Regions from separate parts of the Homo sapiens genome. Here regions 2, 3 and 4 are each linked to region 1. Evidence: fine-mapped expression QTL. A gene starts in region 1. Each other region holds a variant in brackets. All regions are shown on one strand. Distances are between the middles of the regions.

Region 1 (8,089 bases):
GTCACAAGAGGAGAACATGCTCAGGTCAATGGTCCTTTAGGTTCCTTCAGAGTGTACCATGGGGGCAGCTGCCATGTCACCTCATGGCGCTCTGAAGGGAAATTCTCCCAGGTGAATTTCAACATGTGCCTAATGCCAAACTCTTCATCTTAAGCAAACATTTGGTGAAGCAAAGGTTTGGGAGGGTTGGCAAATATTGTGAGTCATTACAGAATCCTATCAACCTTGAATTGTCAACAGGCAGCTTATATCCTTATAAGCATCTTGGCTTATCCTAAGCAAATATTGCTTTCAAAGGTAAATGTCCACGGTGACCTATTTTGTTAACTCCCTGGGCATATCTCATTCTTCTTCTTCTCTTTTCCTTTCTTTTCAATTTTGCCCCTGCTGTAGTAGTGCGATGGTGTGATCATAGCTCACTGCAACCTTGATCTAGTGGGCTCAAAGGATCCTTTTACTTTAGCTTCCCAAGTAGCTGGGACTACAGGTGCATGTCACCAAGTCCTGCTAATTCTTTTTTATTTTCTGTAGAGATAGGGTCTCCTTTCATTGCCCAGTATTGTCTTGAACTCTTGGCCTCTGCAATCCTCCTGCCTCAGGCTCCTGAGTTGCTGGGATTACAGGCACAAGCCACCAGGCCTGGCTATTTCATTCTTTCTTAAGGAATTTTATGTCACTTAATTTATAGATTAATTTTAATTGTAATTTTATGGTTCGCAACTTCTCCCTAAGTTAGTGTCATCTGAATTCTGTTAGATTCATGGTATACTATAAAATATAGAACATATAAATAAGTTTTCATTGGTATGTATATTACACATTTGACATAAGTAATTTTGTGAATCTTATCTTGGCATGACTATCCTAATATTTGGCAAAACATTTATTTTTTAGATCCTGAATATGTACTATAGGCATAAATGTATATGGTTCACATTCATATATGAATATACAAATGATAGAAAAAATAGACAAATTTAAAAATTATGACTACCATTTGCCTTTAAAGTTGCTGACTTTTGGGGATAGATTACCTGAAAGCCAGCTCTATGATATTTGGGAGAATCCTCTATGTTGTCAGTTAAGAAATATTTATAGGGGGCTGGGCATGGTGGCTCACATCTGTACTCCCAGCACTGTTGGAGGCTGAGGCAGGAAGATCGCTTGAGCCCAGGAGTTCAATACCAGCCTGGGCAACATAGTTAGATTTCATCTCTACAAAAATACAAAAAAAAACCCAAAAACTTAGCTGAGTGTGATGGTGTGTGCCTGTAGCCCCAGCTACTCCAGAGGCTGAGGTGGGAGGATTGTCTGAGTCCAAGAGTTCTAGGCTGCAGTGAGCGATGATCAGGTCACTGCATTCCAGCTTGGGCAAAAGAGTGAGACCCTGACTCAAAAAACAAACAAACAAGACTTATGGGACCACCCCCTGGCATGATCCCCATGAATCAAGGCACTATTGACTGTTGAAATTACAACAGATTTCTTTGACGTGGAGGAACTTGGGGAAGACAAGGAATATACATGAGAAAGAGCAGAGTCTAGTAAGTAGAAAGAATTCAGTGACAATGCAAGTTGTTCCTACATAACAGCTTGGAAGTTACCTGCTTTCAAAAGTGAACAGTTTGATCCTCAGAACAATCCATGTAGTAGATGTTATTTTTCTATTTTATTGTTTGTATTACCCACAACTGCAGCAGAAAAAGTTTCAATTATTTGGCCCAACCTGAGCCATCAGAAAGTGGCAGACTCAGGGTGGAAGCCTGCATTTAACTGCAAAGTTTTCTTCTCTCATTGGAGATATTATAGGAAATTACTTTAAAAATTTAGATAAGGGGAAAACTTTTGAAGTCTGTTTGTGAAATACTTTGAGTCGATGAAGAACTGCTACAATTTTGAAAGAAAAAGTTTGATGTTAGAAAAACATTGACAGGCAGTAAGGATCACTTAATACCATGTACCACATTCAGCAGATTCTTTAGAGAGTCCAGGTGGAATAGCTAAATTCCCATAGTCATTTAAAAATGTATACATAGATAGGAATAAATATATGAAAATGGTTGGAATAACATACACCAAACAATCAACACTGACCTCTGTGGGGGGATTTAGGCAGGGGTAGGAGTTGAAAGGTGGGACATGCAGGGGGATCTTTTGTTGCTTATTTTGTAATTTTTGAAAAAAAGTTATAAGTGATTTTTAATTTTAGGTTTAGCAGTTTTATTTTCATATTTAAGCAATTACTAAAAAAGTAATGCAAACCATTGATACAAATATTAGATATTGAAATATCTTTTAATAAAACCTAAACTATGAAAACCAAAGTTAGAAAAGCTTTAACACTTAATTTTCATGCTTCAGAATCACAGGCAACCCCCCTAGACTAAATCAATAAAGTCCCTCCCTTCCTCCCTCCCCCCTCCCTCCCTTCTGCCTCCCTTCCCCCTTCTTCCATGTCTCCCTCCCTTCCTCCCTCCCATCCTCCCTCCCATCCTCCCTCCCATCCTCCCTCCCTTCCTCCCTCCCTTCTCCCTTCCTTCTTCCCCGTCTCCCTTTCTTTCTTCCTTCCTTTTTTTTTTTTTTTTTTTTTTTTTTGCTACAAAGGGTCCTTTAGGGCAAAAGTCAAACACGAAAATTTTATGAAATTTTATGTTTGATGCAGAAAATGCACTACAATTTTATAATTTATTTCTTAATAAATACACATGGATTATTTTCCTTTCTAATTATTAAATTGTCAATGCAGGCAGATATATTTATCCTACAGTTTTAAATATCTCTTTAAACAGCTTATTTAATCTCAATTTCAAGGACATAATCTAATAGCTCATTTAATGCAGAAACAGCCAAATAAGATACTTTACAGAGTTTTTGAAGTTATCCCATGTCCTGTTCATCTTATCAACTTTATTCACCATACTGAGTCCATTGCAAATATTTAGATTTTACTTCTGAATTATCCATTTCCATTACCATTATCCAATTCAGGGCTTTATTCTTCTCACTTAAATTCAAAACCTATTTACCAAATTTGCTTCTATATTCTCTAATATGATTTAACAGTTAGAAATTTTAGTCGAAGATACTTTGTTCAATCTTTGTTTTCTTTGCTGTAATTTCACCGGGACACAGTCATTAACTCTAGATGGCCTGAATTTCTAACTGGAGCTCAGTAATTGCAATACCCTTTGACAGCCTCCACACACATATTGTTTAAGAAGTGGAGCTCTTGTCTGGGCCTTGCAGATTCCACTTGGTATCTCTTAAAGAACTTGTCATATTTATTTTTAAACCTGAATAATGATTGCCCTCTACATTTTTAAAAAATGAGGTAAGGAGGTCAAAGTGATTGTACTTGTCCAGTGCAATCCAGATCCTCATTCTATTGTGAAATATGCTATAAGGCCAGTTTTAATATTCAGCTCTAGCAATAACAGAGAAACCCAGAGGAAGAGCTGACACAGAACCCCTGGGATACAGACCCTAATCCATACCAGATTCTAGGATGCCAGAGGACTAATTTATATTCTAGGAATGTGTAATCATGTATTTACAGGGCAGTTAGTGGCCAGATAAACCTCATCGGCCTTTTCTGCTGTTAGCAATAACTTGTCAAAGAGACTTTGATTTTAAAAATCTGAAAAAAAAATCTGAATAATTGAGGTGAGTATTCAAGTTCTTTCTGTGAGAAAAAACATTGGAAGGCACATTTATCATGAAATGAGGATTTAATTTCTGCATATATGTGATTGAATAGATTTGTAATAGTTTTATATTGCCAAGAAATGGCTTTATATGTCACCACATTATTCATACTAGAAGGCAATTAGTATTTTTAGCAAATGTTAATAAGTAATATGAGCCTGAAATCATTTTATGTCAACCTCCTATATTGGATTCAAGACAATTTCATGTGCAACTTAAAACAACATGATAAAAATTATTCTGTGATGTTTAAACTTGACTGGACTCGAGATTGCACTGTGGTTTCCCTTAGTAAGCGTTATCTTATTAAAAATATGTATGTAAATTTTATGCATGAATATAATTTAAAATACCTGCTGTTACTATCCCAACTCATTTAATTATGTCCAGTGAGTTACTTTTAGAATCTTTTGAAAGTGTAATTAACAATTTATAATGTTACTGAAATCTAAGGTCTATCACTTTAAGCCATCATCACTTATCTAGCTTAAATATGGGTGAGGGTCTAGAAAGCTGCGTTTTCCTTTTCTGTGAAACATAACACATACACGATCTTGACAAAAGCTGGCTCCATAAATACATTTAATCCTTTTGGAATTGATAGCACCATCTTAGCATGCTTAAGCTTATAACAGAAAGTGTAATTCTCTGACAGCAAAGGCAGAGATGAAGTGGGCAGGCAAATCTTACGTATTATCTGTTTTTGGCAAAACCGTAACATTCTCATTACGTTTCCTCTCCAAGCAAAAGAATAATTAAGGTATCTTGTAAATAGTATCATATCTTCAGAAAAACTTTTGTATTTTTAGTTTTTTTTTTTTTAAGTCCTTAAAATGTTGCCCTACTAGTTAGTATATTAAGATACACCTTACAGACCTTTTCAATGCTTGGTCAGTTTGAAGACTCCAGAGAGGTGATGAATTTCAGATGAGCATTTCTTCTTTTCTGGGAGAATGGAGGTTGTGGCCTTGCCTATTCATTAGAGACTGCCTGGTCCGTGGTCACTTTGAGGCAACTGTGGCCTCAGACTCTCATCTGTCCTCTTACTCCACTCAGCTATATTTGGTAACTGAGCTCATGTTTCAGCAGACTGCCACGATCAGGAATTCCAGCAGCGGGCTGGGAAGCACCCCCAGGACCGAGGGCTGGGTTCTTAGAAATAAAGCCACTTAACATAGAAGGAACTATATTTATGGATCTGATAAACGTAGGATTTAAACACATTCTTCTATACTTTGGACTTGTAGCTGGAAATCACCACCTGGACCTTTAACATGTTCTTAATCAATTTAAAGTACAGTATGTGACTCCAAGTAGAAAAAGTGATAATCCAAATGGAAGCTCTTCTTACTCTGATCTTCTGTTCTGTGCATTTAAATTTTGGTCATGTGCTAGATTACCCTAAAATAGTAAATTCAGTAACTGAAAATTTAGCCACCTGTCAAATTGAGTGGAAAGTCCCATTGTTCTCTTATTTCATATTGCTAATTAAAAATTGATATATGACTATGGTATGTATTAAAGGCCTTGTCTATAATAGTATTAAATAAGTATGAACACACAGGGACTGGATCTTATCCACATTGCAACATTGAGTTCTTAGCTCAATGCCTAGGACATCATGAGCATCTCTTAAATATTTGTCAAAGAAATAAATGAATGTTGAATGAATAATATTCAGGAAAAGTATCAACCCTCTTACAGTTGCAAAAAATGTTTCACAATCATTTAATATTTTGATCTTTCAAATGACAAATAGATATAGCAAGAGTTTAATATTTTGATCTTTTAAATAACAAACATAGATAGCAAGAAGAGAAAGCTTTTCTGTTTAAAGGTCAGGTAGCAGAATCAAATATAAGGGGGGCAAAAAGAGCAACACAAAAGCTCCCAGTTAACTTGGAAATGGGGTGCTGAGTCTTCCTTTGTCTGGGTAAGACCATCACATTTGATTCAGTTTAATATCTAAATATTTTTTCTTTTCTGATGTTAGAAAATTTGTGAAGGTCTGCTATTGTATTTTCTTTATAGGCCAAACTGGTCCTTTAGAAATGGTCCTTTCTGTGAGTGGATACTTCTGTGGGTCATTTCATCTATTATATTAATTAAGAAGTGATTTTAAAATTTATACTTACGGCTGGGCGTGGTGGCTTATGCCTGTAATTGCAGTACTTTGGGAGGCCGAGGTGGGTGGATCATGAGGTCAGGAGATTGAGACCATCCTGGCTAACACAGTGAAACCCCCTCTCTACTAAAAATACAAAAAATTAGCTGGGCGTGGTGGCGGGTGCCTGTAGTCCCAGCCACTTGGGAGGCTGAGGCAGGAGAATGGTGTGAACCCGGGAGGCGGAGCTTGCAGTGAGCCGAGATCCCATCACTGCACTCCAGCCTGGGTGACAGAGCGAGACTCCTTCTTAAAAAAAATAAAAATAAAAATAAAAAAATAAAATTTATACTTACAAGGAAATATAACTCTGATTGATTGTCTTAGTTTGTGTCATTATAACAAAATGCCACAGACTGGGTAATTTACAAAGAACAGAAATTGATTTCTCATAGTTCTGGAGGCTGGGAAGTCTAAGATCAAGGTGCCAGCAGGTTTGTTGTCTGGTGAAGTTCCTGTCTCTGCTTCCACAGTGATGCCTTGAGCACTGTGTCCTCACATGGCAGAAGGTGGAAGGGCAAGAGGGGGTCAAACTTCCTCCATCAAGCCCTAAGGGCATCAAATCCCATTCATGAGGAGTCCTCCTGAATCACCTTCTAAACGTTACACCTCCTGATACTGTTGCATAGGGGATTAGGAATCAACAAAAATTTTGAAGGGGACAAAAACCTTCAAACCATAGCATTGCTTAAACACATATTTATATCTGCTTTTTCCTAAAACCACAAGATAATAGTAAAAACTGAAAAGGGCAGAAATTGGGAGGGAAGACAATAGAAGATATCAGAAATGAACAAAATTGTTGGAAAGAGATAAATATAAGTATGCATGTAACTAAATTACAAAGCTTAAATGCCTGCAGGAGGAGATACAGAAAAGAAGCAAGTGATTCACCCCATGGAGTCTCAGAAAGGCTTGGGAATAGGAAGCAGTGAACCCATCTTTAGAAATAATTTTAATTGGCAACTCTGATTTTTGCCTCTGCCTTCTGGTGAACTGTGAGTCTCATGGTGAATTCCAGAGGCAATCATGTTGGACTACTGGCCAGACGAGGCCTCTCCCACATTTCTTTGGATTGCTTGGTTCCTAAATCCTGGTATAACACCAGTGAAGTGATGAAGCCATAAGAAGAAAAAAGAAAAAAAAACAGCTTGTGGTCCTGAGAGAGGCTTCAAAGATGGATATGACTTTACTCAAAAGGACACAGAAATGTGACCTTTTTGTGTGTGTATTGCAAATAGTGCAGCAAACCAAGCTTGTTTTAAAAATCTTATAAGAAGTTCTTTTCCTTAGAAAATTGGCATCAAAAAAATTTAGAAAGTTTGATCAACACTCTTAAGTTAGTATAGCAAGGTCCAGTTGATATTAAGGATGAGATTAGTGTGTGGACAGTAATATCATTTCTCATGCACTTTCATATTTTCCACCAGAGCCCATTTCTGTGTGCACGAAGGTTGGGAAAGGGAGTCTGTGGCTCCTTCATGGGGCTCCAGTTCAGCTTTCAAATGATTACTTCTTCTTATAGAAATTCCTGCTCTTTTGAAGCACTTATATTTGCATCAACCATCCTCCATCCCACTTTTTAAAATTAAGACTTTGGATCTAGTTGGGCTCTTGGTTCTCTTCTTCACTCCACACCCTGCCATTATTCTGGGTGACTCAGCACCCATTTGTCTATTCTATATGTTGGCATATTGGTTTTGGACCTGCTTTTCTCTATGAATCTTCATCTCTGTTCCTCTTACAGATCACACAAACAGACCTCCTCCACCTCCAAAATCAGATATAACTTATCTACTGCTTCATAACAAATTACTGCAAAAATTAATGTCTTAAAACAATATATATTTGTTATTTCACACAGTTTCTATGTGTCAGGAATCCATTAGTCTTAGCTGGGTAATTCCAGATCAGGGTATCATGAGATAGTACTGAAGATGTTGCCCCAGCTTCTTTCAGGTGGAAGCATGGCTGGGGCTGGAAAATCTGCTTCCAAGGCAGCTCACTCACGTGCCTGGAAAGTTAGTCCTGTTATTGGCTGGAACCCTGTTGACTTCTCTGTGTCACTGCCTGAGTTTCCTAGCTTCATGGCAGCTGGATTGTGCCACAATGTCTTTTTTTTTAAAGTGGAGTTTTGCTCTTGTTGCTGGAGTGCAGTGGCATGACCTCAGCTCACTGCAACCTCCACCTCCTGGGTTCAAGTGATTCTCCTGCCTCAGC
Region 2 (8,089 bases), 300 kb before region 1:
ATCCAATCCTGGGACAATTTTCAGTGGGTGTAAAGTTTGTACCTCTGAGTGAGCCAAAAAGCAGTTTCCTAGTTCACGTAGATTTGTTTGAGCGATCCTATTGTTATGTAATATCTCTTGGTTTGTGGTGCTTGATCACTAAACTCTGGCTATGTGAGAAGATTCTAGAATTTAGGCCATGATATTGACTACACAGATAAAAGAGGCAGCAGTTTTTCTCAATGGAGCATTCCCGAGAAGTAACTCCCCAATTTTGTAGGCTCTCACATACTTCTTAAATGATGAGTGCACAAACAAAATAAAGTTATTGTGGCTGAGGCTGCTAGCTACTAACCTAATTCCATGTTCTCTTCTTCATGGAACATGGCTAGACTACTTTTCTCAGCCTATCTTGCAATTAGAACTCTTACAAATCAATAAGAAAAAGGCAGAGCCAAGCATTATCTAGTTGTTACCTATGCCACTCTCACCCTCTGGCTGAAGGAGAGATTCTTCATTTGTTCACATGGACCATGTCCTAGAGCTGGTGTTATTTATGGGGTGTTCAGGTGAGCAGCAGGCAGGTTCCCTGACACCCAGCGGTGCCTCTGCAAGCACGACGGGGTGTTAATCACAAAAGGAGAGACATCTTAACCCCTTTAATTACTTTACTTGGGTGTGGATTCTTAGTGATATCCTACTTTATCTGGGGGACTTGGGGGCAGGTCGTTCTCTTTGTCTTGTAAGCAATTATTTAAGATAATTTCTATCTGCACGTCTTTTAAAAAAATATTTACAGGCTGGGCGTGGTGGCTCACGCTTGTGATCCCAGCACTTTGGGAGGCCGAGGCGGGCAGATCACGAGGTCAGGAGATCGAGCCCATCCTGGCTAACGTGGTGAAACCCTGTCTCTACTAAAAATACAAAAAATTAGCTGGGTGTGGTGGCATGCGCCTATAATCCCAGCTACTCAGGAGGCTGAGGCAGGAAAATCGCTTGAACCCGGGAGGCAGAGGTTGCAGTGAGCCAAGATCGTGCCACTGCACTCCAGCCTGGGCAAGAGAGTGAGACTCCATCTCAGACAAACAAACAAACAAAAAAATTTTACACTTTAACAAAGAGTTATAGAGCAAACACCCAGATTGTAACCACTGCTCAGGTAAAAAAATAGAACAGAAGATTCCTGTGTGTGCCTCCCCCTCATACCCCTGGGTTTTCCCAGGGTAACCGCAATCCTGACTTGCAGAGTTATCATTTCCTTGATTTTCTTTCTAACTTTACTATTCAGTTATGCATCTCTGAGCAAGGTACTTGGTTTCTCCCTCCTTTTTCAGCTTTATATCAGTGGAATCTGACTGTATTCTTTTTGTCTGTATGCTTTTGTTCTATATTATGTGTGTAAGATTTATCATGTTGTTTCGTCTAGCTATAGTTCATTTATTTTAATTGCTGAATAATATTTAATTGAATTACTCTACCACAATTTCCTTACTTGTTCTACTGTTGATGGACTTCTGGAATATTTCCAGTTTGGGGTTATTATGAGCAGGGCTGCTATGTACATTTGGGTTACGTGTCTCTGGGTGCACGTATGTAAGCATTTCTTTGAGAAATATACTCAAGAGTGAAGTTTGCTAGGTCATAGAGTTTGCATAACTTTGAGTTTATCAAATTATGCCAAACTCTTTTCCAACGTGGTTTTTAACAATTTATACTCCCACTGGCAGTATATGAAATATCCTGTTACTTCACATCCTTGCCAGAACTTGGTATTATCAGGCTTAAATTTTTGCCAATTAAATGGGTGTGTAATGGTATCTCTGTTGTTTTAATTCATATTTTTCTTATTACTTAATGAGATTGAACATCTTTTCATGTTTATTAGCCATTTGAATTCTCTCTTTGGTGAAGTGGCTGTTCTACTTTTCACTTATTTATTTTTTATTGCCTGGTAGCTTTTAAAAATTGATTTGTACGAGTTCTTTATTTATTCCATTTGTAACCCACATATTCTGGTCCAGTGTTGTCTACATAAGTTGCAAATACTTTCCACCCTATGACTTGTCTTTTAATACTCCTTAGGGTGCCTTTTAATGATCAGAATTTTTTTATTTGAACTACTTATCAAATTTTTCCTTTATTATCTTTTTATGCCTTGTTTAATCCACCTGGAAGCAACTTTTGTATATAGCACAAGGAAGAAATTCCTTATAAAACAGAAGCATAAAAGTTAGCAAGTATTATTTATAAAAAGAGGAACTTTTAAAGCAAATGTTCTATATTTTTCTCCTTTACTACAGATATGAAGCCTGCCTCTGATAAGAGGGAAATAGATCTTCATGTACCTTTTTTAGGGACAACAAAGTATCTACCTTTGAATTCCCTTAAGAAGTAAGAATATGTAAGTGTGATAGGCCCTCATGTAAAAATCATCTCTTAGGGTACCCTATATAAGTGCATGAATACATACAGTACACAAATGCTCGTAAGTGCATGAACCATTTTTGAAAACATACATAGGAAATAGTTATAGTTGTTACCTGTGGGAATGTATTATTTACATTTTCTGCCTCAGGGAAAAGAATATAATGTTTAAGATAATTTCCATAGTAGCTTAACAGGAAAGTAGCATCAGATACACCAAAATTTATTCACATATGCTCTTTCAGGAACCCATCTATCCAACAGAAGTGCTGATTGTCAATTATTTTACACATGCTTTTCGCACACACACAAAAATCTTGGTTACTTAACAAGCACAGGAATTATTGCAATCCACAACTATACTGAATTGCCAGGTACTCAATCTTTTCTAAGCTATGGGACTTGAATTCCAAACCCTATTCCCAAATTCATTATCTGAATAAAAGGTAGCACAATTGATAAGGGATTTGCTCATAAGTTCAAGGTGAGTAGGAACAGTACGACTTAAAGAATTTGCATTAGAAATGTTTTGATGTTGAGAGACTTCGGTTACCTTTCCAATCAGCTGACTACCCTGGACAAAGCAAAGAACAAGGGTTTTCTCTTCTACGTCTGTTAAAACAAACTAAATATGGCCTGAGAAGGACTCTATACTTCTGTATTTGAGTCCTTGTGGATGAATTGCAACCTAACTTAATAGGTAAACAAGATTGACAGCCTAAAAGTTTGCATCTGTAACAGTGGTTGAGTCTTGGCCAATCCCAGCAGCCATACCTCAACCACTCACACACTGCC[A/G]AGTATTCAAACTGTGTACAAATAAGGCAAACACTGACCTGTAACCAATCCAGCTGTTTCTGTACTTCACTTCTGATTCCTGTACGTCACTTTATTATTATTATTTTTTGTCTATAAATTTGTTCTGACCACAAGGCACCCCCGGAGTCTCTCTGAATCTGCTGTGATTCTGCGGGCTGCCCGATTCATGATTCGTTCATTGCTCAATTAAACTCTTTTAAATTAAATTAAATTTGGCTGAAGATTTTCTTTTAACACTTCTTTCTGCATTTCCTACTGAACAATTTAGCTGTACAAAGAATTAACTATGAATTCTCTCACGCTTTAACAAATGAGACAGTTCAAGTTTACATGGGCAGCAATGAGTTAAGTATTATAGCAAATGAGTCAGAAAATACATATATTTTGAAAAAATTTAAAACATTTCAGCAGATACTTAATGTTTGTTTTAGTAGGATAAAAATCAGTTTACAATACGGTTCCACTTTTTAAAAATTTATATTTATGCATTAAAATTAACAGTGATTATTTCTACACAGGTAGGTTATAGTAAAGTTTTAATTTCCTCTGTGTTTTTCACTTACTTTCCAATGTTACTGCAAATCTGTATCTTTATCTATCTAAAGAGAAATAGATATTATAGTAGAAGCGGTAAGAAAATTTTACCAAATGCCTTAGTTTTAGTCATAAGAAGCTTTTTTTCTAATGTTAAAACTTTATAAGAAATGATAAATTTTACTCTATTTCCACAATTCAGAAAATGACACTTGCAAATTTTTAAGTTTGAAACCAACTTTTCAAAACAAACAAACAAAAAACCCTTTATTTTTCAACTTTTATTCCTTTACATATAATTTAAATTTCTCCTAGTGGCATTCTTATTTAGAGGAATTTACCAAACAGTATCCTTACCTTTGATATGGCAAGGCCTTTTAGATAAGAAAAAGGCTCCCCAACTGGGGAGGCACAGATAAGTGAGGTGTACTATCAAACATCTACTCATCATAGAAAGCATGCTGGAATGTACTCCACATTTCCTTACATTGCAAACCCTGAGCCTTGGCTCTATTAGTGTCGGGACAAAGCGGGTAACTGGGCAGACTTTTCATAAAAATAAGGTGGGGCTTGTTTGTGTGCAATTTTGAATGTGATACCCTTAACAAAAGTGTCTGGTTCTGATTTGATGACACTGAACTCAAGAAAAATAGCCAGATTAGGATCAGAAGGGAAGTTGCAAAATTTCCTGATTTGCTGAATATGACATTAATATACAGGGGGAAATATGCTTTGTAACGAGCAAGCGAGCAGCTGTATGGTGGTGGGGGTGGGGTTGAGGTGGTAGAAGAGGGAGCTAATATGGCAATCGGTATAACAACAAACAAAAATCTGAGCTAAATCAGCTGTGTGTTCAACTTCTCATTTGGTCTCTGATATTTTTTAAATTAACATATTTTTCTTGCAAGGTAACATATGGAATAGTTTGACCTTGCCAAGCAAACTGGCAATTCTGTGTTACCGTCACTTCTTCCAAGCCATCTCTTCAGAGTAAAGTTGAGAATATAAATTTGAAACATAAGCCCAGTTCTCACAAATCTAGTTTCTTTTTCGTAAGGCACCTGCTCTTTTCCAAGGCAAAAATGCCTCAAATTTCCTTGGGTATGAAATTATCCCAAAGTGATGTAATTGAGGGTGATCTGATAAACTCCTTTATTAGGAATTAACTCCCTGCGTGGGATGATGATGAACAGACAGATGAGTAGTTCTGTTTATACTGTTTGATTGTCACGGTGGTCTAAATATACTCAACTTTTGGATGACTCACAAAATATTGCTACATAGTATTTGGTAAAGGAGATTAGAAGTCAAAAACAGGATGGGGTGATATAGACAGAGGGATTTCAAAGCAAGCCTATGAACATTCGAAAGCATCAGAAAATCATTTGATTGTTTCTTTTTTTCTTTGCTCATCCAACTGTGTCTCCCTCAAGCCAAGTAATTTTTCAGGAGATAAAAATGTTCAAATATTCAAAGATTGGCACAGGTCAAAATCATAAGTGACCTGACATTACTACTGTACTTAGTTATAGTTTTGAAAGGAAAGTAGAGACAACTCAATTTGGTGAGTTTCTTGGGAAATAAAACAAGTAAAATTTCTTCCTTGAAGCACTATTCATTGCTTTTGTGGAACAGGCCAGGTATTCATAATAAAGCCCAGGGTAACTGTATTCACTAGAGACAGTTCAGGCAGAACAAAATGTACTTTGCTCCTTCTAGCTAAGCTTCACATGACCTCGAATTAGGAGACAAGGAAGGTAAAATGTGTTTTCTATAACAAATTTACTATTACTATGAAAAGGTAAGTGGGTATCCATCCCCTCAATTTGATCAAACTGCATTTTTATGAGAAATTCTATGATCTCATTTCCTGCATATGAATATTTTTAAACTTCTCTTCAAGCACCTAATGGCATTGACGTTCTGTAACATTTACAGAAGATATGCCATTTGAATACTTATCAGCCACCAGTGGTTTTCATCTCATAGATGGAACCTCTTACTCATTCCACAAATATTTATTAAGCATAGGCTATGGTTCAGATCCTGGGCCAAGAGTACAGGGCCCAGCGGAGAGCCAGATGGACTCCCTTCTAGCCTGGTGTACCTTAATAACTGCCAATCGTGCAAATAATGCATGATGAGACAGCAAGATCAGTTAGCTATCACAGGACAAGTGAAACAGCCAAACTGAATGTCAGACACCCGCCAGCAGTGACTGGTGTTCTCCTTTGCACTGGGCTCTGAGAAAGCATCATCAGAAATGTAAAACGACTTCTCTCCTCCTTATGTTTGGGGGATACAACAATTATTCTCAAGAAACAATTAGGCCAGCCTGGGCAAGATGGCAGACCCTGTCTCCATAAATACTAAAAAAATTAGTTAGAGCTGGGAAGGACAGTGGGGGGCAAGGTGGGAGGTGAGGGTGGTTGATGGGTACAAAAAAATAGAAGAATGAATAAGACCCAGTATTTGACTGCACAAAAGGGTGACTATAGTCAATAGGAACTTAATTGTACATTTAAAAATAACTAAAAGCATGTAATTGGATTGTTTGTAACACAAAGGATAAATGATTCAGGGGACGGGTACCCCATTCTCCATGATTTCACATTGTGATTATTTCACATTGCATGCCTGTATCAAAACATCTCATATACCCTATAAATATATACACCTACTATGTACCCACAAACATTAAACATAAAAAAAAATAAGTACAAAAAATAGCCAGATGTGGTGGTGCTTGCCTGTGGTCACAGCTACGGGGGAGTTTGAGGGGGGAGAATTCTGTTGAGCACAGAAATGTGAGGTGGCAGTGAGCTATAATCACACAACTGCACCCCAGCCTGGGTGATAAAGCAAGGCCCTGTCTCAAAAAAAAAAAAAAAGACAATTAGGGAAAAATATAAAGCAGTTCATGATTAGCTCCCAATTAACTGTATTCACTGCAGAGACCTGTGGGGAATAGAACATTCTATATTCATTCCTTAGAGCTCATCCACATAGGAACTTTTCTCAGGAAGATTTTCACATGTTAATCATTGAACTTTTTCAGGAAGATTCTCACATGTTAATCATTGTGGTGGACAACTGGAAAACCTCAGATGCTGTAGCGTTCATATTTTGTTGACAGCAACCAATATAATACATACATTTAAAATGGCAACATATATATACTTAATTATCTTAAATCACAAATTTTCCAAACAACACCTATTATGCATTCTTGATTTTTCTATTCTTTTTTCTACTCTTCGATTTCATTTTCAAATTGCCACTCAAGAACCTTTAAATTGATTTCACAACAGTGGGTTACCAAAAACACTGACAGGAATTGTACTTTTCAAATGGTGGTAAAGCTATATATAGTGCAGACATTGTGAGATCTTGCTAAAGACTGAATGTTTGTGTGTCCCTATAATTCTTATGTTGAAATCCTAATTGCTGGCGTGATGGTTTTAGGAGGTGGGACCTTTGGGAGGTGATTAGGTCACAAGGGTGGAACTCTCATGGATGAGAGTTTTAGCCCCAGAGCTCCCGGTCCCTTCCACCGCATGAGCACACAGTGAGAGGCCAGCCTTCTATGAAGCAGGAAGCCAACCCTCACCAAACACTGAATCTGCTGGTGCTTAGATCTGGGACTTCCCAGCCTCCAGAACTAGCAGAAATACATTTCTATTACTTATAAGCCACCCAGTCTATAATGGCTGGTTTCAGCAGCCCAAACAGAGTAAGACCATAAGAAAACACACTACTATGACTACCACTACTACTAATGATCGCTAATATTCATTGAGCATTTACTATTTACTAAGCACAGGGTTAAAGATATTACATGGCAATTCTTTCAGCCTCACTTTTGGCTGATTCCCCACAGGCTGTGAGCAGTAAGACAGATGCTGAACACTCTACCCACTGAAGGAAAGGGCTAAGCCACCATACCGAGAGGCTAAAAGACGGACGTGTAGGTTATGTCCACAGAGCCAGAAATCAGTTCTGCTAGCCTGGCCACTGATAACCCCTCTAGCTAGTGAAAGAGGGGTTGAGGCAGCCAGAGGGGTGTGTGTGTGTGTGTGTGTGTGTGTGTGTGTGCGTGTGTGTGTGCGTGCATGTGTGTGTGCGTGTGCACGTACGTCTGTGCGCTGCGCGTATGTCTATGTGTGTGCGCGCGCATGCGTGTGCGCATGTGTGTTGTGTCTTCCACCCTGGGGGAGGAGAGGATTGCTTTCCCCTCACCTTCAGTGAAGTGGGAGGGCCTCAAGAGGACCCCTTAGAGGGCCTGAGTAAGTCCCTTGGAATTTCAGGCAGGTGGGAGAGGGTGACACTCTCACTG
Region 3 (8,089 bases), 180 kb before region 1:
TTTACTCTATGCCAGGGACTGTTCCAAGTGTCATATGAAGATTAACTCACTGGATCTTCAGGACAAACTTATGAGATACATAGTGTTATCATCTTCATTTTACAGATGAAGAAACTCGGCTTGAAGGGTTACATTTTATTTGCTTAAGGTCCCTCCGTTAGGAAGTGATAGAACTGGGATTCAAACCCAGGGAGTCTGGTTCCAGAGCATTACTTGATGTCACATTGCCTGCAATAATAAAGCGATGGAGTTTCTCTGGGTGCTTCATTCTCCCAACTATAAACATGGGGTAAATTACCTTCCATTCCATGTCTTTGTAGAATTTAATCCATTTAAAAATTCACTCTTTACATTATTATGGTATTTACATATCTAGATGTGTGTGTATCTCTCTATTTCCTAGGCTTCTGTCTTACATCTAAATACATTCTGTCACATTCACCCCATTTGGGAATGGGGTGGGTGACATTTTTTCCTGTCATGAAATGCCTAGCACCGTACTAAGCACTCAATAAATATTTATCAATATTTAAACATCAAATACCAAAAAATGCCCACTGATTTAATCAAATATTTCTATAAATTCCACTCTGATTAAGGGGTTTAAAGGAAATATGTACTATATATGCCATCTCTGAGTAACTGATACTTGTTGATTCAAGTTTATGGACCCAAATGTCTTCTCTCTACTGTTTGTATTTTCCACATATCGATAGCACCTATTGGCCTCTATAGTGGCTGAAACACCCCTGAGCATTCAATAGGTAATAAAGGCTGAGGGAGGACATGGTGATACTTATAAGACATACTCATTACTTAGGAATGAGTTTACATTTCCAGACTGTGGGGGAAAACCTTTCTGTGAGTGTTGTCTTTGAACATATTCATTAAACCATGATTTAGAGACATCCAGATGTAATGGTTTTCTACTTTTTTTTTTAAAAGAAGTTCATATTGTTTGTGTTTGCAAAGTAAATTCATTACAACTACTTTCCAGTAGTTTATATTATTGTTCTTTCATGGCTATAGCAGTCTTACAATAAAATAAAAGCAAGATCAAAAAGCATGGTGAAGTCAAGGAATTTGAGTTGTTTTTTCTTATTTGTTTAGCTTTTAGGAGTGGGAAAGCTTTTTGTTGGTATGCAGACTTGTCTTTTAATTTGTAATGAGCTAATAAATTTGGCTATATGAAAGAGCATACACATGTGAGGGAATAATCAAATAGTTACAGCTAAAACAGACACCAGTTTATCAGATTATTAGCTGTTAGAGAAAGAAGTTCCCAATGGAAATGCAAATGTTGACTAATTGGCAGTGTGGTTTTGGTTAAAGGTTGTTTTTAGTGAACTGAAAGGAGAAACATTACCTACAATTTTCTTTGCTCTGAATTTTGTGTCCACTTAGAAAATATTTCAAGGGAGTATACTAGTTAGAATCAAAGTCATATTCTTAAAATCCACAAGTTTGCTGATGAGTTCGACCCCTTATGGGCTCTGGCTCAAAGCATACTTACCTGTTGCACAGGGACAGACAGTGGTTGAATCACAGCTGTGGTCACCCCTGTCTTTGGAGATGATGATCCTATTGTCAAGGAAACAGAAGTTGTTTTCTTTTGAGCTCTGGAAAATAGGAAGGTGAGTGTTTAGTCAGAATATTTTTTGTTTTCGTTTTTTTGTTTTTTTTTTTTAGCAGAAATAATTCCTTGAAACGTTTCAACAGAAAAGCTGGGTTTCTTTTTGTATACGCAATCCGCTTCAACTGTAATTGCTTCCACAATGGGAATGCATAACCTACAGCTAGAATAGCTGTGGTCAGTATATACATGTACCTTATAGAATGTACCTTATAGACATTAAGCAAAATCAAAACATGAGTAAAAGAAAAGTAGCTAGATGTAACTGAGACGCTGTTGAAGATGCTAACGTATTAAACTTGAAAATCCTAAGAGAAAATATTTGGAAAAAATCCAATCTTTATTGATAAGCAGAGATTTGAAATGTTTAGGGTTAGGGTCCTATATTTAACTCAAAGTTTTGGTTGTCTATTTTAAGTCTAACAGCTGTTCTTTTTTCTGGTTTCTAATTTTGTTGTCGGTATCTTGGAATTTTTGTGTTTTCTTAGTGCATATAAGTTAGTGAGATATTTAGAGAAGATTAAGAAGAGTTGATTTCTAGGCCCAGCTTTGTCAAGTAGCTGGCTGTGAAATCTGAAGCAAGCCATGTAACTTCACTAAACTTGAGCTCCTTATAAAAACCAGGGGTGGTAAAATAACCTTAGAAGATCCTTTAAGCATCACTGATTATTTGATGCTGAATGGATATAATTTTTATGTACATACTAGCAGATAAAAGAAATTTATTAGAACAGACTCAATATTTATGGACTTTTCCATAATAGGAATTTCTGGTAGATTTTATTTTTGCCAAATAATTAAGATATTAACATTTTAATAATTGGTATGTCTTTGTAGGAATAACTAAGTTTTGTGAATTTCGGGTACAAGATCTAAATAAATATAGATCGTATCCAAAGGAGAACCTACTTCTGGCCTAATTAGATATTTTCCAACTTGCATAAATAAATTGGTCCTCACATTTTAGTAATGATTTAATTGATTTTCTCTTAATGTGACTTCTCTTTCCATACATTTATAATAAATTAGATGGCTGTCTTTGAAACTAACATTGCATATGGTAAAATTCTGGCATATCAATGATGAAATGCAGACTTCAAAGTTCAAATTTACAAGTTAAAAATTGTGTTCGGGCTGGACATGTTGGCTCATGCCTATAATCCCTCCCAACAATTTGGGAAGCTGAGGCAGGAGGATCGCTTGAGTCCAAGAGTTCCAGATGAGCCTGGACAACACAGTGAGACCCCATCTCTACCAAAAAATAAAAAAAGATTAGCCAGGTGTGGTGGTGTATGCCTATAATCCCAGCTACTTGGGAGGCTAAAGTAGGAGGACCACTTGAGCCTGGGAGGTCAAGGCTTCAGTGAGCCATGTCGCACCACCGTACTTCAACCTGGGTGACAGAGTGAGACCCTGTCTCAAAAAAAAAAAAAAAAAAAAAAATTGTGTTCCAACCTCAGTATTTGATCTCTGATTAACATCAGTTGACTTTTTTCTTCAAAGCACAGCAAACATGGTTTCATACCCCAACCATTCTGTTGCCATTCTTTGTTTCCACATAATCGATGGAATTGTAGGCACTTACTGTGGCATAGCTCCAGCTCTTGATTTGAAAGCTAAACTTTCACTGTCAGAATCTGTTGAACTGGCACCTGGGAAAGTATTAAAGATAATGGTAAAGTTAAGATATCAGTGTTATCTATAATAATTGCAAAGAATTATATTTCCCTTAAATAAAATAACATACAAAGTCTTTTTGACCGAAACACACAATAAAATAGAGTGATTCAGGCTCAGACAATTTTTTATTTGTACTGTTTCTTCAGAAACTCATTTTTAAAAAGTACTACTATAAATAGCTTTCTTCAAAGCAATATACTTTTAATGACAGATTTATTATTAATTTCATTTTTATCACTGTGGTCATCACAACCGTACTTTTAAATGGCTATAAACTATGAAATAAAGATGTGTGTGTGTTTGTGTGAAGAATACCCACGCTTTTAAACTGTAACCTTCTCCAGAGATTGCAGGGTAAGGACTGATGCTTTCTGGCTCCTGGGTAAAACTGAGTATGACAGTGGTTCTGTTCTTGAATAAGAGGGCCTTTGATTTTGGATCATGCCTTCCCAAATTCACTTGCATTATTACTGTTCTTAAATAAAGGGTCAACTTACCAGATTTTTAGTCAAAAGGTAAACTGCAGTCAGATTTTGATGTTTACATATTTCATGTCAAGAGATTTTAGGTGACAGACTTAAAAAATTGCAATGGTTCAAAGTATATTCTTAATGTTTCCAAGATACATTTAACTTGGGTCACTTATATTCTTTTATATAATAATACATGCTTATAGGAAAATAACCATATAGCACAGAATTGTGCAGCCTAATAGTAAAGATCAGTGGGTACCTTCCTAAATGCCATTCCCAAATACCACATTAAGTCTGATGTGTATTGTTCCAGATAAGTGTTTTTTTTTTTTTTTTTTTTTTTTTTTTTGAGACGGAATCTTGCTCTGTCACCCAGGCTGGAGTGCAGTGGCGCAATCTTGGCTCACTGCAACCTCTGCCTCCTGGGTTCAAGTGATTCTCCTGCCTTCTGAGTGGCTGGGATTACAGGCATGTGCCACCTCGCCCTGCTAATTTTTGTATTTTTTTTTTTTTT[TA/A]GCAGAGATGGGGTTTCACCATGTTGGCCAGGCTGGTCTCGAACTCCTGACCTCAAGTGATCTGCCCACCTCGGCCTCCCAAAGTGCTGGGATTACAGGCGTGAGCCACCGCACATGGCCTGGATAAGTTTAATACAGCATATCAACATATTTACATTTATGTACATATTTATACAAATGGATTCACATGGCATGTTCACTTGGCATTTGGCTACTTTTGCCTATCAGTAGATTTAGAATACATACGTTCACTGCATTCTCTTGGATAGCTGCCTGGTATTCCTTCCAGTGACTCTACTGTGATATGTTTTCCAGTCTTTTATTGACATTGAAAACAGTCATGTTTAGGTAACTCTGCTGGAATGTTTGCTGTCCCTTCCTATTTATTTCTGTGTCTACCATCCAGTGTAGGCTTTCTTTGCCTGGGGCCTGGACTACCACAATCCATTCTTGTCTTCCCATCTCCTCCTTCTCAAATTCATCGTTGCCCTCCCTGTGTCGGCTAGATTTTCCTAGAGCACACTTTCCCTGTTAAAAATGAGATGATTAGAATCTCTACTCAGTAAAATAAAAAACCCCAAATTTGTCATTTAATGGCCCTCATGATTTCCAACTTCATTTTCTACCTCTATCTGCCAGAACTTCTTGGACTTCCAAGTCATGTAACCTTAAGTCAGAGAGCTGAGTTCACCTGCACATCTAATGGTGTGCACTCCATAAGTAAGGGGGATACGCAGTGAAGAGGACACACACACACACCCCACCACACACTCCCCACACACCATATCCATACATACCCCACCACACACAAACACACACACCCCACCACACACCACACCCCCCCACACACGTCCATACTCACCCCACCACACACACACCCCACACATCCATACCCTACCACACGCACACACCCCACAGCACACCACACACACACACACACCCACACACATCCATACTCACCCCACCACACACCCACCACACACATATACCCCCCACCGCACACCACACACACACCCCCCACACACATCCATACTCACCCCACCACACACACCCCACCACACACCACACACACACCCCACACACACCACACACACACACCCCACACACATCCATACTCACCCCACCACACACACACCCCACCACACACCATGCACACACACCCCCCACACACCACATCCATACTCACCCCACCACACACACACACACACCCACCATAAACACCCCAAACACATCCATACTCACCCCACCACACACGCACCTACACACACCCACACCACACACACACACCACACACTATACCCATGCTACACATACCCACACCACGCACACACCGTACCCACACCACACACATCACACCCACACACACACCACACACACCCTGCCACACCCACTGCACATACACACACCACACATACACACCTCACCACACCACCACACACACGCCACACCCACACGACACACCACACACACCACACACGCACACCATACCCCCCCACACACCATACCCACATCCACTACGTACACCACACACACACACACACATACCCCTCTGATCTTGTGAGGACACAGAAGAGAAATAAGTACATGATACGGTGGTGAGTGAAGCAGGAAAGTCATCAAGCAGGGGAGGGGCACGGGCTGTGATGGGACTTCCCGGGGGGCTGCAATTTTAAGGATGGTGGCAAGGAAGCCTCCCCTAGGACACAGAGAAAGTGGGGACTCTCTCTCCCTGCTTGTTTTCCATGCCTGTACCTTAGTCATAGTTTTCACTCCTTAGGAAACTCCTATCCATCTTTTCTTGATACGCTATCTTCCACGGTCAGCCCAGGCACTATTCTGTGCTCTTTCTCTGAACTCCCAGCGTTCTTGTTTACAGCACTCACGTCACCTAGAATATCATGCCTGCTAGAAAATGATGAGTTCCCTGAGGATGGACGCTGGGTTAGAAAGGGAACTACCAATTTTTGCATATGTCCTATGTGCCCGGCGTCTGCTGGGCACTTTACCTCATTTAATCATCATCATAATGAACCTCACTAAGAAGTGAATTATGTCCAATTTATAGACAAGGACACCAAGGAACCAAGAGGTGAAGTAATTGAAGGTCACATAACTAGAAAGCAGTGGTGACAGGCAAAGCACTGTTGTTGTTGAGCCTCGTGGTCTGTGACCTTGCCCCCACACCACGTGACCTCCAGGTGGCCTTCATGAGGTGCGCGCGTGTGAGTTCCTCAGAGGGCCTAGCTTCATGCCTTCCTCATACACACCTTCCAGGCTTCTGCTGGAATGAAGAAAGAGAACTGGGAAGTGGTAAAGCTTGTCTGGGGACGAGGCGCAGATCGTGCAAGGAGAGAGGAGCAGCAGGCTGGGGGCAGTAACGGGAGGCAAATCTCGAAACACAGGCAGGACTGGGACGCTGGGGCTGACTTGTTTGAACCTGGTCGTGTAGGCACCGAGAGTGGGGGCTGGAAAAGTCAGTGTGCAGGATTAACTGGCGGAGTAGGGACACAAACGGGGCAAACAACAAACCATCAAAAACAAGTTATGGGCCAGGAGAAGTTTTCTCTGTGATGAGGAGATGCAGGGAGCTGAGAAACCCTGAGGAAAAGCCAGTGAAGGCGATCAGAAGGTCGGGGGTGACCCGGGAGACCATTTTACTGGAATCATAAAAGCATTTAGGAGAAGGGGAGGGGTGGCAAAAACCATATGGAAGTTATCACACACACTCTCAAGGTAGCGAAAAATTGGGGAGAGAAAACAGTTACTTTTCACCTGATTCAAAATGTTTCAATCATTAAAAAACAAAAAATTCCTTCTGATGACCTCTCTTTAGAAAGCCATTCTTGCTACTTTTTTCCAGCTGATTTTCAAAGGAAAAAGGGGCCAAAAAGGCTGGGGCCCCCTGAATAAACACACATTTGCTAGCTTTTGCACACCTGTCCAACCCTTGTGAAATCTGAAAGTCACCTTACATCTCAGGTGTCAGAGCAGCTCTTGGAGACGGGGGCAGATCAAATCTCCCTCTCTGTGCCAGCCAGTTCCCTGCCTTCCCCTCAGGGCGATTCTCCCGCCCTCTCCCACTCTGTTCCCACTTCAGTCATCTGCTTTGCACCTGCTGGTCAGGAGAAAAAAAAAAAAACAACACTACGGAGTCTCAGGTTAACGTCTTTCTCCATATTTATTAACCGTCACTTTCAGTTTTGGATGTAGGCTCCAGTCTGAAAGAGTTACATGTTCTAGCCCTTGTAGTTACTATCATCTGTTCACCTAACAGTTACCTGCCTAAACCTTAACTTTTCCTATTCTGCCTCCCACGCAGAGTGAAGGAATCACACGCCGACGATCCTGCTCCAGGCTTTGGCCAGTGGAAATGTCACAAAAATGAGTCTCCTGCCTTGACTTTAAAAGGTGCTCCCTTTTCATTTTAAAAACCTACTGGCTGGGCGCGGTGGCTCACACCTGTAATCCCAGCACTTTGGGAGGCCGAGGTGGGCGGATCACAAGGTCAGGAGATCGAGACCATCCTGGCTAACACGGTGAAACCCCATCTCTACTAAAACTACAAAAAAAAAAAAATTAGATGGGCATGGTAGTCCCAGCTACTTGGGAGGCTGAGGCAGGAGAATGGTGTGAACCCAGGAGGTGGAGCTTGCAGTGAGCCGAGATCACGCCACCACACTCCATCCTGGGCAACAGAGCGACAGAGCGAGACTTTTCAAAAAAAAAATTTTTTTTTAAATATATATAATTAATACATATAAGTAAAATATATAAACATATAAAAATAA
Region 4 (8,089 bases), 500 kb before region 1:
AAGAGATTAGTCAATGAGTCAACCTTTGCCTTTTAACACAGCCAGATAAGGACTTTGGATACTTACAAGCAGGCAAACAGGCCTGTATCTGTCACCTGATAACCTGAGGTATATTTGTTTAACTCTAAAATCTTCTTTTTTTTAGGTGTATTTAAAAAACCCATTAGTCCTCCTTATGCATGCAAAACTTTTAGAATTGAGCTAAAAGTAAATAATAGATAGTAAATTGAGAATCTTACTACAGGAAGGACTACTTTAAACTGCCAGACACTTCATTGGTATTTCAGAAATTACCACTTTTTGACCTGATGAACAGTAGTGCGTGGCACGAATCAAAGCTGCTAAAGCAGCTTGTGTTTTTTTTTCTTTTAAAAGCCACTCATATTTAGCAGTTGGGGGTTGTATACTAACTTTAGTGACACTACTGTTAATAGGTTCTGATAACCCGCTACCATCGGACCAGCCCTGTTTTGGTATTTTTTTCGTGCATGTATTTTTCTTTTTTTGTGTCTCTGTATTTTTCTTTCTGATAAACACCCCTCTATCCATATGCATTTCTTCAGTCTGATGTCTGTTCTCTCTGTGTACTTCACAGTTCTCTTCCTTTGTTATTAATTGGCCTACAATATATAATGTAGATAAATATTCTAATACTGAACTTGTTGATTCTAATAGAGAAATGTTTGGAATGTTTTCTTTTTTTAAAATTACTTTAAAAAAATTTTGTGAGGTCCTTGATTAATTTTTGTATCATAAGTACAGGTCAGTGGTGCAGAAAATTACTTCCCCACTTCTGTTTTGCAAGAGTTTATTTGCATATAGTTGATATTTGAATTAAAAATTATTATTACATATTCATTAGATGTGGTCACTCAAGAATCTTCAGTAGGCAGTACAGTTTACAATATATCACTGAATGTAATGAAATTGCACTTTTACAAAAAGTGTATAATTGAAGCTTTGCCAATTTAGATTGACAGTACAAGCATGTCTCGCAGATATTGTAGCTTTGGTTCTGCTCCACCGGAATAAAGCGAATATGTCAAGAATGTAAGTCACACAAATTGAATTGCTGCAATCTCATGATAAAACAAATGGGTGAGGAGTTGCTTCTTATGTATGGATAAACAAAGTTGTTTCTCAAGATGGAATCTACTTGTGAAGATGTGAATACTGTTGAAATGACAAAGGATTTAGAATATCCTATAAACTTAGTTGATAAAGCAATAGCAGGGATTGAGAGGAGAGGCTCCAATTTTTAAAGTTCTACTTGGATAAAATGCTATCAAAGAGCATCACATGCTGCAGAGAAATCTTTCATGAAATGAAGAGTCAATCAATGTGGCAAATTTTGTCTTATCCAATTGTTTAGTTTCTCAGTGCATGTAAAAGTTATATTATGGTCTATTAAGTATGCAGTAGCATTATATCTAAAAAAAATGTAAATACTTTGTTGCTAAAAAAATACTTTATTGCTAAAAAATGCTAATGATCATCTGAGCTTCTGGCAAGTCATAATCTTTGCTGGCGGAGGGTCTTGCCTTGATGTTTATGGCTGCTGACTGATAATAGTGGCTGTGGCAATTTCTTTATTTTTTTTATTTTTTTATTTTATTATTGTTATACTTTAAGTTTTAGGGTACCGTGCACAATGTGCAGGTTAGTTACATATGTATACATGTGCCATGCTGGTGTGCTGCACCCACTAACTCGTCATCTAGCGTTAGGTATATCTCCCAATGCTATCCCTCCCCGCTTCCCCCACCCCACAACAGTCCCCAGAGCGTGATGTTCCCCTTCCTGTGTCCATGTGTTCTCATTGTTCAGTTCCCACCTATGAGTGAGAACATGCGGTGTTTGGTTTTTTGTCCTTGCGATAGTTTACTGAGAATGATTTCCAATTTCATTCATGTCCCTACAAAGGACATGAACTCATCATTTTTTATGGCTGCTTAGTATTCCATGGTGTATATGTGCCACATTTTCTTAATCCAGTCTGTCATTGTTGCACATTTGATTTGGTTCCAAGTCTTAGAATAAGACAAAATTTGCCACATTGATTGACTCTTCATTTCGTGAGAGATTTCTCTGCAGCATGTGATGCTGTTTGATAGCATTTTATGCAAGTAGATCTTTAAAAATTGGAGCCACTCCTCTCAATCCCTGCTATTGCTTTATCAACTAAGTTTATAGGATATTCTAAATCCTTTGTCATTTCTTTCAACAGTATTCACATCTTCACAAGGAAGAGATTCCATCTTGAGAAACAACTTTGTTTATCCATACATAAGAAGCAACTCCTCACCCATTTGTTTTATCATAAGATTGCAGCAATTCAGTCACATCTTCAGGCTCCACTTGTAATTCTGCTCCACTGAAGTCTTGAACCCCACAAAGTCATCCATGAGGGTTAAAATAACTTCTTTCAAACTTCTGTTAATGTTGGTATTTTGACCTGCCATGAATCACAAATGTTCTGAATGGCATATAGAACGGTGAATCCTTTCCAGAAGGCTTTTAATTTACTTTGCCCAGATTCCTAAGAGGAATTACTATTTATGACTGCTATAGACTTATAAAATGTTTCTTAAATAAGACTTGAAAGTCAGAATTATCCCTTGATCCATGAGCTGAAGAAAGGATATTGTGTTAACAGGCACGAAAACAACATTAATCTCCTTGTACATATCCATCAGAGCTCTTTGGTGACCAGATGCATTGTCAGTGAGCAGTAATATTTTGTTTGTGGCACCCCAACAGCAGTAAACATCAAGAATCACTGATCACAGATCATTATAACAGATGTAATAATAATGAAAAAATTTAAGATGGTATGAAAATTACCAAAATGTGACAAAGAGACACAGAGTGAGCACTGCTCACAGTGAGCCATGGTGTTGGAAAAGTGCTAATAGAATTGCTTGTTGCAAGGTTGCTACAAGCCTTCAATTTGTTAAAAAAAAAAAAAAAAAATGCAATATCTGCAAAGCACAATAAAGCAGAACAATAAAATGAGTTATGCATGTAATTCAATTTTAGTGAGATTTAGCTTCAAATGAACTAGTTTTTAGGGTGAAAACGAGAGCTTTCTGCCTTATGTCTGTGTTGTAGAATCATAAAATTAGTCAGCTTTTGTCTGACTTTTTCTGGCTTTAACCTCTACCTGCTGGAAGCCTTTATAAATACCACAGAATTTTCATCATATCTGACCTACTCAGAGATTAGAGTGCATCCCCTTCACGTAGTGAATCAATTCGCAAGCACCTGCATTGGCAGTTTTGTATCAGCTGCTTTCAGATGCTATTTTCTGTATGTATCTGGAGCAGACTTGGACTCTTAAATCTTCCGTAAATGACTGATGACAATGGTTAGAATTTCTAATTTTAACAAAGGACAAGGTGAAGTGGGTTTTACCTTTTTGTTTACTATAAATTATCTAAATTTTCAAGTAACCCCATTAATTGAATTTAATACGCTTTTTTTTTTTTTTTTTTTTTTTTTGTCCTAGGAAGCATTGTTGGCTTAAAAGGCAACTCTGGCCAGTCCGTTTACAGTGCCAGTAAAGGAGGATTAGTTGGATTTTCACGTGCTCTTGCTAAAGAGGTAGCAAGAAAGAAAATTAGAGTGAATGTAGTTGCACCAGGTTAGTGAAAACTTTATTAAAATAACTTGATTATGATTATTGTTTTATAGGGAAGCCATTATTTGGAACATTAGTAATTGACATCTGGGTAGAATAGTTTGTAAAATGATTGTGAAAAGAATCAAATAATGAACTGGGGGACTCAAAAAAATTTTTTGTACCTCATATTCTATATAAAGTCTATGTGTTAGCCTGTTTGCATTGCTCTAAAGGACTGTCTGAGGTAATTCATAAAAAAAAGAGGCTTATTTGGCTCTCGGGCCTGCAGGCTGTACAAGCATGACACCAACATCTGCTCAGCTTCTGGTGAGGCCCAGGAAACTTTTTTTCAGTCATGGCGGAAGGTAAAGAGGTAGCAGCCAAGTCATATGGGGATAGCAGGAGCAAGAGAGAGAGGAGGTGGCAGGCTCTAAACAACCAGCTCTGGCATGAACTAACAGTGAGAACTCATTATTTACCATGTGGAGGGCACCAAGCTATTCATGAGGAATCCGCCTCCATGACCCAAACACCTCCCGCTAGGCCCACCTCCAACATTGGGAATCACATTTCAACATGAGATTTGGAGGGGACA[G/A]ACATCCAAACCATAAGAGTCTTTATTTTTAAATTTTGCACTAGTGGAATAACTTAAGGTGGAGAGGGTCTTAGAAATAATTTTTTCCAGTCATTTTTGTAGATTAGAAAACTGTACCTGGGATTCAGAGTGACTTGCCTAAGGTTACACAGCTAGTTTATGGAAGAACTGTTACTAAAAGCTTTGTCTTTTGATTTCCACCTAATGGGAGCTTAAAAATAATGTCCTACCAGGTATGGTAGCTCATGTGGGAGGCTGAGGCAGGAGTATTGTGAGGCCAGGAGTTCCAGATCAGCCTGAGCAACATAGCAAGATGCTGTCTGTACCGAAAAAAAAAAAAAAAAATTAGCTGGGTGTGGTGGTGCACACCTATAGTCCCAGCTATTTGGGAGGCTGAAGCAGGAGGATTGCTGGAGTCCAGGAGTTGGAGGTTGCAGTGAGCTATGATCATGCCATTGTACTCCAGCCTAGGTGACAGAGCGAGACCCTGTTGAGACCCTGTCTCTATAAAAATTAAAAAAAAAATTCTTTTTAGATTTTCTTTATATCATTACACAAACTTTAGATAGTTTTGTCCTTTTACTACTATGGTCTGTCTAAACTATCTGGAACCTCCCATTTTCCTAATTTTTACTTTTCCATTATTTGCCTTTCGCCAGGGTACTAGTTGATAAAATTGCCTGGATTAATGAAGAGGGTAATAAAAAGGTGCTAAAACTCAAAAATATATGATCACTAATTAGCTGGTGTGCTAGAAATTTTGATTAGGTATTTACTTGGTTTTTGAGTAACACAAGTGTTTTTATCTACCTCTGCCAGTTAGCCATGGAATCTTTGTCCTAGCCTACTGTAGGTACTTAAGAATTAATCACCTATATAAGAAAAGGCAGTTTATTTTGGTTTGCTGGTCCTTTGTAAGAAAGAGAGGGCTGAAGTAGACCTTTGCTACCTTTCCCTTTCCGGTCACTAATGGCTCCAGCTTGGACCTTACAGTTGGTGTTTTCTTTGGCACTGAAGTTGAGCCAGCAGGTATCAGGGATTTATCAAAATATCCTATTAACCCTTTTGGTCTATAGTGTGTCTTTATTTCAATTCTTTTCTTTTCTTTTTTTTTTTTCTCATAGCAACTAGCTACATTCAGACATTCTAAATCTATGAATATTTGATAAGTGACTGTGGTTCAGATACATCTATTTGCTGGGAGTAGGGAGAGAAAGAAAAAGAAAAAACAATCCAGAAGCAGCATTGTTGTTATCTTAGCACTGTTTTCTCTTTGTGTATGCTTTATGCAAGCTGATTGATTTTTAGCGTTAGCCTAGATGAACTATCTGTGGAATAAATTATTTGTGGTTTGGAACTACATGTATTTGCTTCCTTCTCTTTTCAGGATTGGAATACTGTGGGTAATGAAGGGTTAATTTTAGTTCATGATAATACAAAAGCTGAATGGTTTCGGGGAATGGAAGTGTACTTAGCTAACAATAACTCATGCAGCAAACTTTCTGGCATGTCTCCTACGTGTAGGGACTGAGCTAGCTCCCCAAATTACAGGAATGAATAAGATATTTCTGCACAAGGAGCTAAGTATAGTGAAAAAGACTGACATGTAAACAAATAATTGCAGTGTCATATGACGAATATAAAATAGAGGTACATATATGGTGCTATAGAAATGTTGAAGAAGGAAAGAATGCTTAATTTTGTCTAGTTTAGAGTAAATAGTTGTCAAGGCAGTAGACTAAATAGTGGGAATCCAGTTTGCATACTAAGGGGAAGTTTTAAGATTGTTATGGAAGTGTGGTTGTAGTCTTTCTTTCTTAAAGATTTTACTTTCCAGTGCAGTTTTTTTTTTTTTTTTTTGAAAGTGGTGGTTTTATTTATCACTCCCCTTTTTTGTTGAGCATACAACCCTTATAGAGCATAATATATATTTATATATTATGGATTTCCAGTGCAATTTATACTACAGATAAAAACCTGTAGCTGAAAATGTGGCCATTTAATAGAGTGGCCTTTATGTATATTTAGCAGATTTGATGGTATGAATATGCATCATTTGTCAGAAGCAAAGTGCAACTTGAAATAGTAGAATTAAATCAGTTCTGTGGATTACTTACCAACTTTATTTTAGATAGTAATTTCAACCAGATTCTTCAACAGATCTTGTAACACAGCTAACAAACATCACAGTTAACAAATATGTGTCCTTTTATGTCAGTTTTCCTGGTCACCTTCAAATGGAGTTTCCAATTAGCAGGAAAACAGTTTAAAAGCAAATTATAACAGGAAAAGCAAGGAACAAGGAAAATAATAAATTAGGCTGCGATTCATTGCCTAATACTGTTGACTTTTTAAAGATCAATAGCTGCTAATCTTTGGTATTACTTTAAATATAAAATAAACTGTTCATGGGAAATCATACTGATTGGAAGATATTGAATATTAGAAATAATATTTGATAAATGGAAACTGTAATGGCTGTATTACCTTAAAAAATATGTGTTTTGAATAGATAATACATATAGTACGAAATTCAAAAGTACAAAAAGGCATAAAGAGTCTTTTCTCCTCTGGACATTCAGTTACTTAAAAGTAGTTGCTGTTAACTACAAAGTTTCTTTTGTATTTCATATATAAGCCAATAAAGCATGCTGGGCATGAGTGTAAGAAAACACAAATTGTATCATGCAATTCACAGCTTTCTGTATCTTCCTTTATTCATAGAACAAGATACCTTGGTGATGTTTCTGTGTTATTCCATATAGAGCTGCTTCACTTTTTTAAATAACAGCTTTGTGGAAATACAATTCACATACCATACAATTCACCCATTTAAAGTTTACAATTCAGTCAATTCAGTGGTTTTAGTATAGTCCCAGAATTGTTCAATCTTCACCACAGTAAATTTTAGAACGTTTTCATCATCCTTAAAGAAATCCTAAACCCATTAACATTCATTCCCTATTTCTTTCCAATCTCCCCAGTACACTAAACTACTTTCTGTATCTACAGATTTGCATATTCTGGACATTTCATATAAATTGAATCATGTAATATTTGGTGTTTTGTGACTGTTATGTCACTTTTAATGACTGAATGAAAACAGAAAATGATGTTTGTTTTAAAGGTATACCTAATTTATTTAACCTGTTGCCTTTTGATGGACATTTAGTTTTGTTCTGAACTTTTTCTGTTACAACTAATGATGCAGTGACAATACTTGTATGGAGTTTATTTTGCACATTTGCAAGTATATGAGTGTAATCTTGGGACTGGAACTGCAAAGGCTTCAGAGGTATGTGCATTTTTAATTTTGACAAATAGTATTATGTTTATTTCTACAGGATACCTTAAGTGTTTCAGTACTTTATTTTTTAAGTTGAAGAGCTTTTATGTTTACTACTTGGAGAAAATCTTGTTGACAAAGATTTGCATGAGTTTGTTAGCTACTCAGAGAAGATATTCTAAGTGTTCTTATGTGCTGTTTGGAATGAAGTTGATTTCCCACTCTGCTTCCCTCTACAAATATAATATTAAGACATAGAAATTTGTTCTAGTTAAAATCTTGGTTTAGCTTTTTGGTAAGAGCCTTATTTCTTCTCCCTTAGAAAAGTGTTGGGTTGTTTTTGTTCTTTTTGAGTCCTAGAAACTTACATCAAAGAGTGGACATCTTATCTGGCAGATACATCAAATAGTGCCCCATCTCACAATTGTTAGTACTAGTGATAGGCTAAAATCCTGATGCCTTTTTAAATATAAAGGCTCTGCTGTATATAAAAATGTTGAAAACTAAAATAATGACCTAGGGATATGGAAATGAGGTGTTTCTATTTATAGTTTATAGCTAGTCAGAAATCGATAAAGGATATAAT

Alleles and levels. Alleles are on the strand shown, and positions count from the first base shown. SD is a standard deviation of normalised expression in the study named. Not every link is listed here.
For the expression in macrophages of the gene that starts at base 4,724 in region 1, allele G in region 2 goes with a higher level than allele A (moderate effect, 0.55 SD a copy in Nedelec 2016).
For the expression in lymphoblastoid cells of the gene that starts at base 4,724 in region 1, allele TA in region 3 goes with a lower level than allele A (large effect, 2.4 SD a copy in TwinsUK).

What was found. PIP is the estimated chance that this variant, and not a neighbour inherited with it, causes the effect.
Region 2: its variant is the best candidate, but not a certain one, in a credible set for the expression of PALLD in macrophages (Nedelec 2016, PIP 0.74).
Region 3: its variant is the best candidate, but not a certain one, in a credible set for the expression of PALLD in lymphoblastoid cells (TwinsUK, PIP 0.86).
Region 4: its variant is the best candidate, but not a certain one, in a credible set for the expression of PALLD in testis (GTEx, PIP 0.54).

Annotation. Positions count from the first base shown.
Region 1 is chr4:168,493,687-168,501,775 of GRCh38, reverse strand. It overlaps PALLD (palladin, cytoskeletal associated protein), which reads right to left and starts at 4,724. Exons shown (of 22, transcript NM_001166108.2): 1 at 4,582-4,724. The region is part of intron 1 of LOC107986198 (a long non-coding RNA gene); the gene reads left to right.
Region 2 is chr4:168,794,266-168,802,354 of GRCh38, reverse strand. All of the region lies in intron 10 of PALLD (palladin, cytoskeletal associated protein), which reads right to left. Among named protein-coding and RNA genes, the nearest start is that of PALLD-AS1, 150 kb to the right of the region's middle. The variant A/G (reference allele first, on the strand shown) is at 3,199.
Region 3 is chr4:168,676,528-168,684,616 of GRCh38, reverse strand. PALLD (palladin, cytoskeletal associated protein) reads right to left here. Exons shown (of 22, transcript NM_001166108.2): 4 at 3,219-3,285; 5 at 1,514-1,619. It overlaps LOC124900808 (a long non-coding RNA gene), which reads left to right and starts at 7,645. Exons shown (of 3, transcript XR_007058360.1): 1 at 7,645-7,709. The variant TA/A (reference allele first, on the strand shown) is at 4,301.
Region 4 is chr4:168,997,625-169,005,713 of GRCh38, reverse strand. CBR4 (carbonyl reductase 4) reads left to right here. Exons shown (of 5, transcript NM_032783.5): 4 at 3,509-3,643. It also overlaps the pseudogene RNY4P17. Among named protein-coding and RNA genes, the nearest start is that of CBR4, 8.6 kb to the left of the region's middle. The variant G/A (reference allele first, on the strand shown) is at 4,218.